2 linked regions of the Homo sapiens genome follow. The protein of the gene in region 1 interacts with the protein of each later gene in a pairwise test. Each region holds a gene or a part of one and is shown on either strand. Other genes may lie near its edges.

Evidence for each region. The genes of interacting proteins can lie anywhere in the genome.
Region 2: the proteins of PLOD3 (region 1) and EHMT2 interact in binary tests that used the Homo sapiens proteins (3 or more experiments, as listed by UniProt).

Annotation. Positions count from the first base shown.
Region 1 is NC_000007.14:101,210,970-101,214,716, reverse strand, and holds part of PLOD3 (multifunctional procollagen lysine hydroxylase and glycosyltransferase LH3 precursor), read left to right. Parts: intron 1-1,512; coding exon 1,513-1,610; intron 1,611-1,773; coding exon 1,774-1,875; intron 1,876-2,061; coding exon 2,062-2,187; intron 2,188-2,342; coding exon 2,343-2,464; intron 2,465-2,766; coding exon 2,767-2,871; intron 2,872-3,000; coding exon 3,001-3,126; intron 3,127-3,747. UniProt on the Homo sapiens protein: Multifunctional enzyme that catalyzes a series of essential post-translational modifications on Lys residues in procollagen. Plays a redundant role in catalyzing the formation of hydroxylysine residues in -Xaa-Lys-Gly- sequences in collagens.
Region 2 is NC_000006.12:31,891,047-31,894,793, forward strand, and holds part of EHMT2 (histone-lysine N-methyltransferase EHMT2), read right to left. Parts: intron 2,617-3,747; exon of another isoform or gene 2,316-2,616; intron 1,865-2,315; coding exon 1,780-1,864; intron 1,689-1,779; coding exon 1,648-1,688; intron 1,517-1,647; coding exon 1,361-1,516; intron 1-1,360. UniProt on the Homo sapiens protein: Histone methyltransferase that specifically mono- and dimethylates 'Lys-9' of histone H3 (H3K9me1 and H3K9me2, respectively) in euchromatin.

The DNA of each region.
Region 1 (3,747 bases):
TACAGGCATGCGCCACCACGCCCAGCTCATTTTGTATTTTTAGTAGAGACAGGGTTTCACCATGGTGGCCAGGCTAGTCTCGAACTCCCAACCTCAGGTGATCCGCCTGCCTCAACCTCCCAAAGTGCTGGGATTACAGGCATGAGCCACTGTGCCCGGTCTACTTCTGTGATTCCATTTAACAAAGGGAAGGTCCCTGGTTATCCTTCTTGTACAGATGAGGAAAACAGCTTGTGGAGGGGTTGGTGACTTGCCTCAGGGGATGGGGAGAACGGGGAGAGAGAGAGGCCAGGCACGGTGCCTCACGCCTGTAATCCCAACATTTTGGGAGGCCCAGGCAGGAGGATCACTTGAGGTCAGGAGTTTGAGACCAGCCTGGCCAACATGGCGAAAACCCGTCTCTACTAAAAAAAAGTACAAAAATGAGCTGGGCGTGGTGGCGGGTGCCTGTAATCCCAGCTATTCAGAAGGCTGAGGCAGGAGAATCACTGGAACCCGGGAGGCAGAGCTTGCAGTGAGCCGAGATTGCGCCACTGCACTCCTGCCTGGGTGACAGAGTGAGATTCCTTCTCAAAAAAAAAAAAGGCCAGGTGCGACAGCTCACATCTGTAATCCCAGCACTTTGGAAGGCTGAGGCGGGCAGATCATGAAGTCAGAAGTTTGAGACCAGCCTGGCTGACATAGTGAAACCCAGTCTCTACTAAATATACAAAAATTAGGCTGGGTGTGGTGGCTCATGCTTGTAATCCTAGCACTTTGGGAGGCCGAGGCAGGTGGATCACCTGAGGTCAGGAGTTCAAGGCCAGCCTGGTCGACATGGTGAAACCCTGTCTCTACTAAAAACACAAAAATTAGCCGGGCATGGTGGTGCGCGCCTGTAATCCTGGCTACCCGGGAGGCTGAGGAAGGAGAATCGCTTGAACCCTGGAGGTGGAAGTTGCAATGAGCCAAGATCGTGCCACTGCACTCCAGCCTGCGTGTTGGGAGTGAGACTCCATCTCAGCATAAAAAACAAAAAATACAAATACAAAAATTAGCCAGGTGTAGTGGCATGTGCCCATAGTCTCAGCTACCTGAAAGGCTGAGGCAAGAGAATCTTTTGAACTCAGGAGGCAGAGGTTGCAGTGAGCCGAGACCACGCCATTGCACTCCAGCCTGGGTGACAGAGTGAGACTCCATCTCAAAAAATAAAAATAAAAAAAAAAAAAAACAAGGAGAGAGAGAATATGAGGAGGGGTAGGGATGCTGAGGCTCCTACTGGCCTCCCGCTCAGCTCACCCTCCCCTTCCTCGCCCAGCTGCGGTGTGATCACGCAGGTAGTAGGCAGTGGAGCTCTCTGGGCCAGCAGCCTGGTCAGAACCCAAAGGTTCCTGCCCACAACGAGCCACACTCCAGGATAGCCCTGGTGTCCCTTTATTCCCTGGAGAATTTGGGACCCCATATTTAGAAGAATGTGTTGCTTGGTAGCTCCCAGAGAAAGGGGGTCTGAAGCCTGGCCTTTTTCTTCCCCAGATGAAGTGGTTTTAAAGTTTGATCGGAACCGTGTGCGTATCCGGAACGTGGCCTACGACACGCTCCCCATTGTGGTCCATGGAAACGGTCCCACTAAGGTGCCACCAGTGGTCTCAACCCCCGCCCCGCCCTGCCCCAACCCCCAGGCACCTCCAACCCTTCTGAGAAGCTGGCCCTTCCCAGCCCCCATATCAGAGGTGCCTGACCCCCACCTCCACCCCTGGAGGCCTCAGCCACTCAGCCTCAGTCTGTCCCCAACAGCTGCAGCTCAACTACCTGGGAAACTACGTCCCCAATGGCTGGACTCCTGAGGGAGGCTGTGGCTTCTGCAACCAGGACCGGAGGACACTCCCGGGGGGGCAGGTGAGGTGGGGGTGCCAGGGAGGGGCACGAGAGGGCAGCGTGCTGAGCAGGAGGTACAAGGACAGCGGACTGGGGGGCGGTGGGGGCATCGCTCCTGGGTCCCTGCACCTGTCAGGGTGGAGGTTGGGTGGGGGCAGCAGGGAAGTCCGGGCTTCTCTCTGAGTCCCTGCGTGTTGCATCTTCCAGCCTCCCCCCCGGGTGTTTCTGGCCGTGTTTGTGGAACAGCCTACTCCGTTTCTGCCCCGCTTCCTGCAGCGGCTGCTACTCCTGGACTATCCCCCCGACAGGGTCACCCTTTTCCTGCACAACAACGTGAGACTCCCCTGTTGGAGCCTCTCCTGAGGGACCCTTTCCCTGCCCTGATCAGAACTCTCGTGCCCCCACCCCCATCTCCTTCCTGCACCCCCATCCCTCAGGTGCCGCCTCCCTGCCCTCTGAGCCCATCCCCCTATGTCTTCCCCTCCCAGGAGGTCTTCCATGAACCCCACATCGCTGACTCCTGGCCGCAGCTCCAGGACCACTTCTCAGCTGTGAAGCTCGTGGGGCCGGAGGAGGCTCTGAGCCCAGGCGAGGCCAGGGACATGGCCATGTGAGCGGGTGCTTGCGGGGAGGAGAGGGTGGGATGAGGCTGTAGGGTCAGGGGTGCTGCCACCTGCTGCCTGGCCCTTGCCTCACCTGTCACCCATCCAGCCCCTCCTGGGCCTCCCCATTCGCATCCTTGCAGCCCCCATGCTGTCACTCCTGCCCTTGCCAGCTCACCCAGACAGCAGAGAGCCTGGGGAAGGAAGGATAGACACTGCCTCCCTCCTCTTCTCCTGGGGGCATGGGCCAGTTACCCCATCCACACCGCCTCCCCACCTGCCGCCGTCTCAGCTCGCCTCTCACCTCCAGGGACCTGTGTCGGCAGGACCCCGAGTGTGAGTTCTACTTCAGCCTGGACGCCGACGCTGTCCTCACCAACCTGCAGACCCTGCGTATCCTCATTGAGGAGAACAGGTGGCTTACCCCCTCTCCCCGCAGCCGGAGGGCACCCCAACAGGCCCCGGGAACCCCACTCCTGCCCTGGGCACCGGGCTCCCCAGGCCTGCTCCCGTCTGCCCAGCCCTCACCCCCACCTGTCCGCAGGAAGGTGATCGCCCCCATGCTGTCCCGCCACGGCAAGCTGTGGTCCAACTTCTGGGGCGCCCTGAGCCCCGATGAGTACTACGCCCGCTCCGAGGACTACGTGGAGCTGGTGCAGCGGAAGCGAGTGTGAGTCCCGCCAGCCTGCAGCCCCCCGCCTCCTCCGACCCGGGGCCCAGGTAGACCCAAGCCCCCTACTCTCAGGGGTTTGGAGTGGTCACCAGTCAGAGGTGCCATGAGGCTGGCTGCAGTGGCTCACACTTTTGATGCCACCACTTTGGGAGGCTGAGGTAGGAGGACTGCTTGAGCCTGGGAGTTTAAGATCAGCCTGAGCAACGTAGCAAGAGCCTATCTCTACAAAAAACTTAAAATATTAGCTGGGCACGGTGGTGCGTGCCTGTGGTCCCAGCTACTACGGAGGCTGAGGTGGGAGAATCACTTGAACTTGGGAGGTTGAGGCTGCAGTGAGCCATGTTTCCACCACTGCACTCCAGCCTGGAAACAGAGGGAGACCCTTTCTCAAGAAAATAAAAAACAAGGGCCGGCCGCGGTGGCTGACGCCTGTAATCCCAGCACTTTGGAAGGCAGAGGCAGGTGGATTACTCGAGGTCAGGAGTTCGAGACCAGCCTGGCCAACATGGTGAAACCCCATCTCTACCAAAAATACAAAAATCAGCCGGGCATGGTGGCTGGCACCTCTAATCCCAGCTATTTGGGAGGCTAAGGTGGGAGAATTGCTTGAACCTGGGA
Region 2 (3,747 bases), on another chromosome or scaffold:
ATTCTCCTGCCTCAGCCTCCCGAGTAGCTGGAATTACAGGCACGTACCACTACGTCCAGCTAATTTTGTATTTTTTTCAGTAGAGACGGGGTTTCTCCATGTTGATCAGGCTGGTCTCGAACTCCCAACCTCACGTGATCTGCCCGCCTTGGCCTCCCAAAGTATTGGGATTACAGGCGTGAGCCACTGTGCCTGGCTGACCTAAGACAAATGTTAATCAAATCAAGGTGTGGGCCTCATTTGGATCTTGACAAAAACCATTTGTGAGAGCTGAGGAAATGTGAAGACTGACAGGATATTTGATGGTATTAAGAAATCGGTAAGTTTTTTTAGGTGTGAAAACAGTAGTGTAATGATGTTGAACGACAAAAAGAGGCCTTATATTTACAAATCTATATGGATATATGTTTAGGTAAAATGATATGAGGTCTGGGATTTGCTTTAAAATAACCTAGTAGGTGTGTGTGCTGGGAGATGTACAGATGGGTCAAGATGGACTGTGTACTGATAATGGCTGGAGCTGTGTATTGGGTACATGGGGGCTCCCTATTCTACTCTTTTGATTATGCTTGCAAGTTTTCATGATAAAATGTTAAATAAAAGGCAAAATCAGAGAGACTAAACATTCTACTGTGTAGGCAAACATATAAGATAAAACCAGACAAAGAGCAACGAAATAAGCAAATAAATGACAATGCAATGCTTTTGAATTTTATATAAACAGCATAACGTATGTTTTAAAAAAGTGCTTTCTGGTCATTTCTTTTTTTGTTTTCTTTTTTTAAACAGTACATGTCTGTTAAATGGTCATTTCATTAGCTGATTAAAAAAAAAAGAATACTAAATCCCATGTGCAGGGTGGTGGCCACCTTTGTGGATGAAACGGGCAGAATACACATTGAAAATGAGTTACAGCTGGGCGCGGTGGCTCACAGCTGTAATCCCAGCACTTTGGGAGGCCAAGGTGGGTGGATCAACTAAGGTCAGGAGTTAGAGACCAGCCTGGCCAACACAGGGAAACCCCGTCTCTACTAAAAATACAAAAATTAGCCGGGCGTGGTGGCAGGTGCCTGTAATCCCAGCTACTCGGGAGGCTGAGGCAGGAGAATTGCTTTAACCCTGGAGACAGAGGTTGCAGTGAGCCCAGATCGTGATATTGCGCTCCAGCCTGGGCGACAGAATGAGATTCCGTCTCCCCCCACAAAAAAAAGGAGTTATAGACAGCATGGGGCAATGACTTAGTGGATATTCAGAAGATAAAAAGGACAGAAAGCAGAAAAACAGGGAACAAGGAGGACTGGACAGTGAGCCCCAGCCCTGGGGGAGCACCGGCGGGGAGGGCAGACCAGCTCTGTCTCACCTTGCTGTCGGAGTCCACGCGCTCATCCACAGAGTAGGAATCATAGTAGAGACTGAAGTCATCACCCACCACCGTCTCCCACTCCTCCAGGGACCCGGGGTCCCCTTTCGTCAGGGTCACTTCTCCTGAACGCCGGGCAGAACCTAACTCCTCTGACTAGAAAAAGATCAGAAAAATTGAGGCCACTGACACCCTGCGCATTTCTACTGAGGATGGGATGCAGCCCCACCTCTGACCCTCCCTCAGAGCAGCCCCCGAGGGGTAGAGGCTCTGCCTCTGCTGCTTACCAGGCCACCTCCTGAGTTCAGCTTCCTCCTTTTGGCCAGATCTGGAAGAAGAGAGAGAATGGTGTGGGGCCTATCACCGAAACCTTCAGAACAGACCACATCAAGCCACCGGGGGTGGGGGATGGGACTGACCTGAGGTCACCTTTCCCAGTGAGTGGACATCATCACTCATGCGGAAATGCTGTATTTCAGGGGGCCGCTTCTCAGGGACCGGGGGCTGTGGGCCGAGAGGGAGCACACTGAGGGTCAGAGAGCACCTACAGTTTTGCCTGGGTTAGCCTGGAGCCCCAGGCGGGGGTGGGGTAGTGAGCCACACCTCCAAATGCCATGTGAGGCTCCAGTAGCCACAAACTGGCAACCACGGGTGCTATTTCCTCAGAGGAAGAGTGTCAAGCACACTAACACTCACTCATCTCTGCAACCATGCAGAGCAGGCCCTTTTCCATTTTACAGATGAGAAAACAAAGCTTAATAAAGTTAAAAGACCTTTTATATGTGGCCATATACACAGCAGGACTGTTTACAACAGCTGAGGTGCGGAAGCAACTCAAGTGCCACTGACAGATGAATGGATAAGCAAAATGTGGCATTTATACACAATGGAATAACATTCAGCCATAAAAAGGAAAGATATACTTTTTTTAAGAGATAAGGTCTCATTCTGTTACCCAGGATGGAGTGCAGTGGCATGACTATGGCTCACTTCAGCCTCGAACTGGACTCAAGCCATTCTCCTGCCTCAGCTTCCTGGGAAGCTGGGATTACAGGCACATGTCACAATGCCTAACTAATGTCTTCTTAATTTTTTTTTTTGGTAGAGAAGAGGTCTTGCCATGTTGCCCAGGCTGGTCTTGAACTCCTGGTGTCAAGTGATCCTCCCCAGAAAGTACGGGATTACAGGCGTGAGTCACTGGGCCTGGCCTTTGAAACATTCTTTTAAACTTCTTTTAGAGATGGGGTCTTGGTATGCTGCCCAGGTGAAAGGAAAGAAATTCTGACATGGTACAACATAGATGAACCTTGAGGACATTATGCTAAGTGAAATAAGCCAGTCACAAAAGGATAAATACTGTATGATTACACTTAGATAAAGTACTTACTCAAATTTATAGAGAAAGAAAGGACAGTGGTCCTTGCCAGGGGCTAGGGGGTGGAGGGAATGGAGAGTTATGTTTTAATGGGTACAGAGTTTCAGTTTTACAAGATGAGTTATGGTGACTGATGATTGCACATGATGAAAGTATTTAATACCATTAAATTATATACTTAAAAATGTTTTTTATTTTATTTTTAAATTTTTAGATGGAGTCTCACTCTGTTGCCCAAGCTGGAGTGCAGTGGCGCGATCTCAGTTCACTGCAGCCTCTACCTCCCAGGTTCAAGCGTTTCTCTCACCTCTGCCTCCTGAGTAGCTGGAACTACAGGCACATGCCACCACGCCCGGCTAATTTTTGTTTTGTTTTTTTTTTTGAGACAGAGTTTTGCTCTTGTTGTCCAGGCTGGAGTGCAATGGCAGGATCTCGGCTAACTACAACCTCTGCCTCCTGGATTCAAGCGATTCTCCTGCCTCAGCCTCCCAAGTAGCGGACTGTTACAGGCATGTACCACCATGCCCGGCTAATTTTGTATTTTTAATAGAGATGGGGTTTCACCATGTTCGTCCGGCTGGTCTCGAACTCCTGACCTCAGGTGATCCACCTGCCTTGGCCTCCCAAAGTGCTGGGATTACATGCGTGAGGCACCCCGCCTGGCCTAATTTTTGTATTTTTAGTAGAGACAGGGTTTCACTATGTTGGCCAGGCTGGTCTCAAACTCCTGACCTCAGGTGATCCTCCCGCCTCGGCCTCCAAAGTGCTGAGATTACAGGCGTGAGCCACTGCGCCTGGCCTAAAATTGTTTTTTAGATGGTAAATTTTACGTGACACTAGTCCCCTCTTATCCAGTTCATCAGCAGTGATGGTGGCATATTGTTAGAATTGTGCTATTTTTTTTGAGTCTCGCTCTGTTGCCCAGGCTGAACCGCAGTGGCGCGATCTTGGCTCACTGCAAGTGATTCTCCTGCCTCAGCCTCTCGACTAGCTGGGATTACAGGCGCACGCC